2 linked regions of the Homo sapiens genome follow. The protein of the gene in region 2 interacts with the protein of the main gene of each other region in a pairwise test. Each region holds a gene or a part of one and is shown on either strand. Other genes may lie near its edges.

Region 1 (2,720 bases), on a different chromosome or scaffold from region 2:
CTTTAAGTTTTTTATATGTCGTACCTTATTTGAGCCTCAGAATGACCCTATGAGGCAGGTAATAGTGCTGTTCTCATCCCCATTTTGCAGACAAGAGGAAGTCAAGAACAAGAGAGGTTAAACAACTTGCCCAAGGTCACGCTTAGTAAGTGACAGAGCAGAATTTGGACCCAGGCAGCTGAACGTTCCTAGCCACAATTCTATCCCAGATCCAAGAAACTGGGAGTCAGGAGGCCTGTTTTTTGCCTGATTCTTATGTGAAATTGGGTTCTGGCCTTTCTTTTTCTTGGCTAGGTTCTTCCCAGGGTTGTTTTAGCATTCTGAGAGGCTAACTAGCTACCCCTTTCTTCTCTGGCCCAGGTGAAAATCTGGTTCCAGAACCGCCGTTCCAAGTTCAAGAAACTCTACAAGAACGGGGAGGTGCCGCTGGAGCACAGTCCCAATAACAGTGATTCCATGGCCTGCAACTCACCACCATCACCCGCCCTCTGGGACACCTCTTCCCACTCCACTCCGGCCCCTGCCCGCAGTCAGCTGCCCCCGCCGCTCCCATACAGTGCCTCCCCCAGCTACCTGGACGACCCCACCAACTCCTGGTATCACGCACAGAACCTGAGTGGACCCCACTTACAGCAGCAGCCGCCTCAGCCAGCCACCCTGCACCATGCCTCTCCCGGGCCCCCGCCCAACCCTGGGGCTGTGTACTGAGCACCCATCTGGCCTGCACCCTTGACAAAGGACCCCAGGACCAGGCAGAAGGCGCCTCCGTCCTAGCCACTCAGGAATCATCGAGGAGCACAGGGAAAAGGAACTCCCTTTCCCCCTCCCTTGCCCCTTCCTCCAGGGACCCAAGCGCTTCCAGATGACAATTGCATGGACCAAGGATGCCCCCTGAACCTCCCTCCCTCTGCCTAGACACTGGGGTACCCCTCCAGATGTGGGGACATTCCACCCCAGTGGGGACAGCCATTCCCCTACCTGCTCCAGGAGCCTGGATTGGCTTTAAATGGCTCATCATCTTCCAGCTTCTTAAACTTAGTGCCTGTTCCCAGACTGGAGACCTTGGGATGGGGGAGAGTGTGGAGGGTTTGCGGGTCCTGCCTGTGCTGGGGCACCTGGCACCGTGGATCTTAAAACTTGCCAGGCCTAGTTCCTCCTGAGCCTCTGGTGGTCTCCCCCTGCTCGAGCGGCCCCTCGGCCAATAAGACAGTGGACATCATGACGAGGACTCCGGGTGGGGACCTGAACTGGTCACCGCCCTGCACTTCTAGCCCTCATTTAAGATTTGAGGGTGAAACCAAAGAAAACCCCCTAAGTGAGGGAATCTTTTAATATTTGTGGCTTTAGAGGAAAGAACTAAAGGAGCCATCTCTCTCCCCTCTCCTCCGTTCCGAGAGGAGGGGTGGGTCTCAGACGTTTTTCCTATGGACTTATTTCTTCCATGTCCAGGACTTTGCACAACTTTGGTTTTAAAAGCTGTTGAAAAATAGGAAAACAAAGGGCATTGTTCACAGATAGGGCCAAGTCTCCCCTTGCAAGGGTGCCTCTGTTCTGTCCCTGCCCCCACCTCACCTTCTCTACTCCTCCAGTAAGTTGGCAGTTTTGGTGCCAAACCCCAAATCTCCAAAGAGACATACCAGGCAAGACAAACCCCCAAACACCTCCTTTCCGGTGGCCTTGGAAACAGATTGCTCCGAGCTGGAGAATGTCGGGTGAGGTGTATGGGAGAGGAGGGGAGAGTTAGAACTTGTGCCTTTGGGAGTAAGGGGTAACTGCCTGGAGGGCTGGTGGCACTGCCCCTCCCTGACCCAGACATCCCACCAAAGCTAACTTTCCCCCACCCCTGATGCAGTAAAACATTGAAAAAAAAAAAAAAGGAGAGGTAGAAGACTGTAGCTATATATATAAATATATAGTAAGTTTTTTTTTTTTAAGAGCAACAGAGAGAAGCAGCCTCCTCCCTGCTGCGGTTTCCTATTTATGTGGCCATGTTCCTCCTGGACGGATCTCCCTGTGTGTTTCAAGCTGAGAGATGTGGGCTCCGGCTGGATTTGGGTTTTGTGGGAGGTGCAGGGGCCAAGAGAGACGTGGTAGGTCTCCAAGAGTCCCACCCGGGGGGGAAGAAGCAAAGCCATCTCCCACCCCCTCCCAGCCTTCTCATTTCTGCTTTCTTACTGGACTCATCTTTATATATAATGTTAATAAAAAAGACGAAAATAACCACTGAGCTCTTTGAACTGGAGGCTGGTGGCAGCTCTTGTGGGGAGGGTCTGAGAGTTGGGGAAGGTGTCCAGTGAGGAGGCACTTCTGCGCTCTGAGGGAGACGGGGCCCCTAGGAAACCACTACTAAGGTGCTGGGCTGGGCCTGGCCCCTGGTGGCAGGTGCTCCTGAAACCATGGCTGTCCCCAATCTGGGCAGGTCTTTGGGGGAGGCTCCCAGCAGCAGCTTCCCTGACTCCACTGCTTGGCAGCTTGGTGCTCAGAATCAGACAGCTCCCTCTGCACCGCCGCCGGGTCACCTCAGGGCTGGTCTTTGATCTGGAGCTCACATGCAGACATGCTTGCACATGTGTGTAACCCCCTGCCTCCATGCCCAGGCACTCCTGGCCCCTCACCCTCCTGTCTGTCCCTTTCAGCTTGGGGTGAGGGTGGGGCCTCAGTCAGGGGGACACGACTGCTCCCTCAGTGGGGAGGGACCTAGCACTGTGATCCAGGCCTGG
Region 2 (5,868 bases):
AGAGGCATGTGCCACCACACCTGGCTAATTTTTTTGTATTTTTAGTAGAGATGGGTTTCACCATGTTGGTCAAGCTGGTCTCAAACTCCTGACCTCAGGTGATCCACCTGCTTAGCCTCCCAAAGTGCTGGGATTACAGGCGTAAGCCAGCACGCTCGGCCTATTTATTTCCTCTTTGTTCTATGCCAGTTAGTTCTTGATGCCTCATTGTTTCAGATGGGACATTTTCTAATGTCGTGTTTTTGTTTTTGTTTTTTTGAGACAGAATTTCATTGGTGTTTCCCAGGTTGGAGTGCAGTGGCATGATCTCTCCTCACTGCAACCTCCGCTTCCCGGGATCAAGCAATTCTCCTGCCTCAGCCTCCCGAGTAGCTGGGATTACAGGCATGCACCACCATGCCCGGCTAATTTTGTATTTTTAGTAGAGATGGCATTTCACCATGTTGGTCAGGCTGGTCTCGAACTCCTGACTTCAGATGATCCACTCGCCTCGGCCTCCCAAACTACTGGAATTACAGGTGTGAGCAACCATGCCCGACCTCTGATGTCCTTTTAGAGGATGTTACCCTCACCTTTATTGCACAGTCCTACCAAAAGGTACTTCATATGTGAAATGTATCAGAAGGTTATAGTCATGGCTTTAGTTTAAAAACAGGATACATGTTCATTAAGGACCTTTGCCGTTTTCCCAATGGGTTAATCACGTAAATATAAAATAGGCTAAAAATATCAAGTTGTTTTTGCCTTTGTTGTAGAAATAAAAAAATGAATTCCTACATCTGTGTTTCTATGGAGCTGCTAACCTGTGTTTTACTCTGGGCCATATGTCGCTTTCTGTGATCTCATGACGTGGCATGTTTTCTAATATAATCCTTGTCCTGGCATTTTGGTGACTTTTGTCCTGCCTGAGGTGGTCTACCTGGTTGTGTGAAGTCACAGAACCTGTGCATGTCCTACCGTGTAGAGTTAAAGGGCTGGATGAGTGGCCTCAAGCCTTTTCCTCCCTCCCAGGTGTGAAGATTTGGTTTGGAAGATGGACCCTGCTTCAAGGTCTGGGAGGCCATGTTTTTTTCAGACTGGTTAAGGATGACGGTTTTATGTTAACTAAACATTGGGATCAAGTGACAGTTGTTTATGTCCGGTGCCTAGAGTATCAGTTTTCCCATGATTAAAATAAGCGATATTTTGGTAAACATTGATAAGTTAGTTGCGCATTTTAGTTCAGAAACCCACAGCGAGTCAGAAGGCGCTTTGTGCTGCTGGGCGCCTCTGAGTGATTCCGGGGAGTGCGGCAGTTCTCCAGCCCCAGGAGACCCTGTGAAAGAAGCACAAACAATGCTCACGGCAAAACTCACAGTGTTTATTCTTGACCTGGGTGTCTGCCTTGAATTCTTGTCATTTTTCCTATCGTGGTGGATGTAGCCGGAATGCTTTAAAGAAAACATGAGAGTTTTTTCTGCCTGTTTCCCTTGAGCCTGGAACCGATTATGACCCCAGATAGCCTGCACAGGGCTCTTTCCTTTCTGGAACACCTGCCCAGGCTAGAATATGGGAGTAGGGAGGAGGTGAGGCTCTCTCCTGCCCGGTAACCTTCCCGGCCAGCTCTCCAAGACGCTGAAACCTTCCTTCGGGTCTGTTGAAACTGCATCCCCAGCACCATCATGTCGGAGCAAGAAGAGAAGGGCATGTGTCCCCTTTAGGCTTGACTCTTTCCAATTAGGGACCTGCCTGTTGTTAGGATTTAGAGTCCATGTGAATGTGCAGTATTGTTCAGTGCTGCGAGCATTTTTGCTTGTCTGAATTTCCTGATAGAAGGGAATTTGGACAAAAAGAAGCTTATTGTACATGGTGCCATTTTATTCCTTAAATCAATAATAACAAATACTTTATTTATGTATTTTTAGAGATGGGGTCTTGCTCTGTTGCCCTGATCATAGCTCACTGCAGCCTTGGCTTTCTGGGCTCAAGTGATCCTTCTGCCTCAGCCTCCCAAGTAGCTGGGCCGACAGGCACAAGTCAGCATGTCCAGCTTTTTTTTTTTCTTTCTTTTTTTTTTTTTTTTTAATTTTCAATTTTTTTCTAGAGATTGGGTCTTGCTGTGTTGCCTAGGCTGGTCTTGAGCACCTGGACTCAAGCAATCTTCCTGCATCGGCCTCCCAAAGTGCTGCGATTACAGTTGTGAGCTACTGTTCCTGGCCAACATATACTTTAATATGGCAAGACCATATAAAATAATTTTAAGAGGCCAGGTGTGGTGGCTCATGCCCCCCAGCACTTTGGGAGGCTGAGGGGGGCAGATCACGAGGTCAGGAGATCGAGACCATTCTAGCTAACACGGTGAAACCCCGTCTCTACTAAAAATACAAAAAATTAGCCAGGCATGGTGGTGGGCGCCTATAGTCCCAGCTCCTTGGGAGGCTGAGACAGGAGAATGGCGTGAACCATGGAGGTGGAGCTTGCAGTGAGCCAAGATTGCGCCACTGCACTCCAGCCTGGGTGACAGAGCAAGACTCCGTCTCAAAAAAAAAAACAATAATTTTAAGAACTGGAGGAAAATTCAGCAGGACTGAGTCGTGATTTCAGTTTCTGGTGCACTGTGGGTAATTGGGTAATTGTCAGCCTGGATGCTTGTGCTCCTTTAGTTGTCACTGTTACCTTGTCATCTATGTGAAGATGAGAAATGAAGTTGAGTGGAGAACTGTCGCCAAAGTCTGCCATGTAAAAATCGGTAGTGCCAATGTGCAAAGGTAATTCCCAGGTGCTATAAAAGTCCAGGTGGCTTCACAGTTTCAGATTGTATTTCCCGAAAGCGTAGAGAATTGATATCCCTGAATAGGAAATTGACGTCCCTGCCATTTGGTTCATTTGGGGAACAGAATAAACTTGTGTCCTTGCCTTCAGTTCTTTTTTCAACAGAATCTTATCAAGCATTTGAATCGTACACAACTGTAATGCCAGCTCCATGTTGATAAAAACTCAAGAATTCAAAATTATAAACTTGAAAACAGCAATTGCCAACTTCTGACAGTAGCAGGAGAGTCTGGAGGACCTGTTCAGAGGAAGTCGGGTACTGTTTCCTTTTCTTGTCTAGGTTTGTTCTTGTCCGATGGGATCAGAGAGATTGAGATGGGGCATGATAGGCGGTGGGTTCAGGAGAAAGGGAAGCTTTAGAAATGAAGGTAGAAAAGATGCTTTCTTATTGGAACAGTGTTTTCAACGTTGAGCTCTGGAATGTTGCAGCCAACTAATGGTTCTCATTTGGGACAGTTCTGTCCCCCACCTTTGAAGGGGGTTTGGTTTAATTCCCAATTTGATTATGAAGAAAATACCAGATTCAGCTTGCATTTTCAAGACACAGTGGTTCTATGTCAACTTCAGCCATTTCCAGGGATCTGTCTTAGGATACTTCAAAAAGCCTAACCTTTGAGATGCACTCAGCTCATAAGTTCGTGAAAATAAGAATGAATAATCTTCCCTGTCCAGTACATGACAGAAATTATTGTAGACCAGATGAGAGCAAGGAGAGATACTTGTTGATATTACATGTCACGGGATGCTCTGTTAAATTTTATGGGACTCTGAGTGTAATTCCTTTAAGCCAGTAGTCTCTAAATTTGGGGGAAGGACAGGGGACAGAAATGACTTGTTTCAGATTTTAATTCCCAAAAGGGTCTTAGTGAGTTTCATGCCCTCTGGCAGGTGCACAGCAAGATTTATTGGGATGCAGGAAGAAATTATGAAAATGTCCATTAAGAAAATCTCTAATACTTGTAAAAAATATATTTCTTGTCCATGAAATGCATGTTACTTGAGTATTTTATATATTTAATAAATTACATGAGTTAGGAGCACCTTCTGAAAACTTTTTTGCTGAAAAGGATATATGATGAAAGAAACATTTATGATGTAGGTCCCCAAAGGCTGGAAGAGGGGGTGATACCAACGTCCCTGCCTGCAGGTAGGACACAGTTGTACTCCCCTTTCCTCTGACTTCAGCTACTAAGGTATGTGTGCGTTTGCACGCACATGTATGTGCGTTAAGTAACTTTGAGATCCACCAGCTTAAGGACTGGACATCGTTCCAGAGGTACAGGTATTAGTGATTTGACTTAGGGAAGAAAGAATATGCAATAACAGGGAACCATGCACATACTGGATCTATTGTATTTTGCGTGTTGTTTTTAAAGCTGAAAAAATGCGCTTGTTTCGGAACTAGATGACAGTACCTGTTTGCAGGTCCACAAGGAAACCTTGGAACAATGCTATGCTTTTTAAGCGTTTTATGACTGCATTGTTTTCATAATCACTGAATTCTGTTTATAAATCAGCTGATTTCATTGACGGATGCCCTCAGGGCTCTGGAGAATTAGGCGTTTTGCTGCAGAAATGGTTCAGAATTTCAAAGACATCAACGTGAGATTGTACTGGAATTGAGTTGTGATAAAAGTCCTAGGGTGCTTTAAATCTTTAAATCTGGTTATTTGTTTGTTTGTTTTTTGAGGCAGAGTCTCACTCTGTCGCCTAGGCTAGAGTGTAGTGGCGTGATCTCAGCTCACTGCAACCTCCGCCTCCTGGGTTCAAGCAATTCTCCTGCCTCAGCCTCCCGAGTTGCTGGGATTACAGGCGCCTGCCACTGCACCCGGCTAATTTTTGTATTTTTAGTAGAGACGGGGTTTTGCCATGTTGGCCAGGCTGGTCTCGAACTCCTGACCTCAGGTGATCCGCCCACCTTGGTCTCCCAAAGTGGTGGGATTACCGGCGTGAGCCACTGTGACCTGCTGTTTTTGTTTTTGAGACATATTTCATCTATCATGGTTATTAAGTGTTTTGTTTTTTTGCATTTCTCATTGGTGTTTTTTGTTTGTTTGTTTGTTTTTTTGAGATGGAGTCTGGCTCTGTCGCCCAGGCTGGAGTGCTCAGCTCACTGCAACGTCTGCCTCCCAAGTTTAAGCAATTCTCCTGCCTCAGCATCCCGAGTAGCTGGGATTACAGGTGCCCACCACCACCACGCCTGGCTAATTGTTTTATTTTTAGTAGAGATGTGGTTTCACCATGTTGGCCAGGCTGGTTTCGAACTCCTGACCTCAAGTGATCTGCCTGCCTCGGCCTCCCAAAGTGCTGGAATTACAGGCGTGAACCACCACGCCTGGCCTCATTAGGTTTTTTTTTTTTTTCTGAGTTGCTGCTACACTACTGGTGTTACAGAGTGAATAAACATAAAAATTATATTCACAACTCAGACCACATTGTGGGCTGTGGAGGTGAGAAATAGGAATCATCTCTAAATTTAAGGTCTTCTGGCTGAGCTCATTTGCTTAGAATGGCTGAAGGTTTGGTTTTCATGAGATGAAATGCCAACCTCAAGTGGTTCTGGGTTTCCAGACCAGTTTTTAGTTTGTTTAACTTGAGAGAATTGATATGTCAGCTTTAGTTTTTGTGTGTAATTTTTGGTGTTTGCATCTGTTTTCTTCTTTGTGAATATTGAATTCGCAACATAACTTTGTTATATGAAATGATGCTCATACACTTGCGCAGTGCATTAGAAAGCCTGCCAGGAGCAGTACTTGTAGATTTCCGTGTACCAGCAGGATGCCTAATGCCGACCATGATTAATGCTCATCAGAATCTATGTAGACCTCCATTTGTCCTTTGATAAGCTGAAATATTTGTGTCTACTTTTTAAAAAACCTGTTGCTTCTCTTTATGGTAATACTCAGAAGGCACTCACTGTGAAGAGAGGAGAAACAGGAAGTAGAATTTTTTACTATCTAGATTGATGCACCTATCTCCCCTCTCCAGAGACCAATGCATTTAGGCCCCAGTAAGAAATTTAGTTGTAATGAACCATAAAGCAGATGCAGAGTATAT

The links. The genes of interacting proteins can lie anywhere in the genome.
Region 1: the proteins of TBL1X (region 2) and DLX3 interact in a two-hybrid assay, tested with the Homo sapiens proteins (one large-scale study listed by BioGRID and IntAct).

Annotation. Positions count from the first base shown.
Region 1 is NC_000017.11:49,989,505-49,992,224, reverse strand, and holds the end of DLX3 (homeobox protein DLX-3), read left to right. Parts: intron 1-360; coding exon 361-708; 3' UTR 709-2,220; downstream 2,221-2,720. UniProt on the Homo sapiens protein: Transcriptional activator. Activates transcription of GNRHR, via binding to the downstream activin regulatory element (DARE) in the gene promoter.
Region 2 is NC_000023.11:9,470,394-9,476,261, forward strand, and holds part of TBL1X (F-box-like/WD repeat-containing protein TBL1X), read left to right. Parts: intron 1-5,868. UniProt on the Homo sapiens protein: F-box-like protein involved in the recruitment of the ubiquitin/19S proteasome complex to nuclear receptor-regulated transcription units. Plays an essential role in transcription activation mediated by nuclear receptors.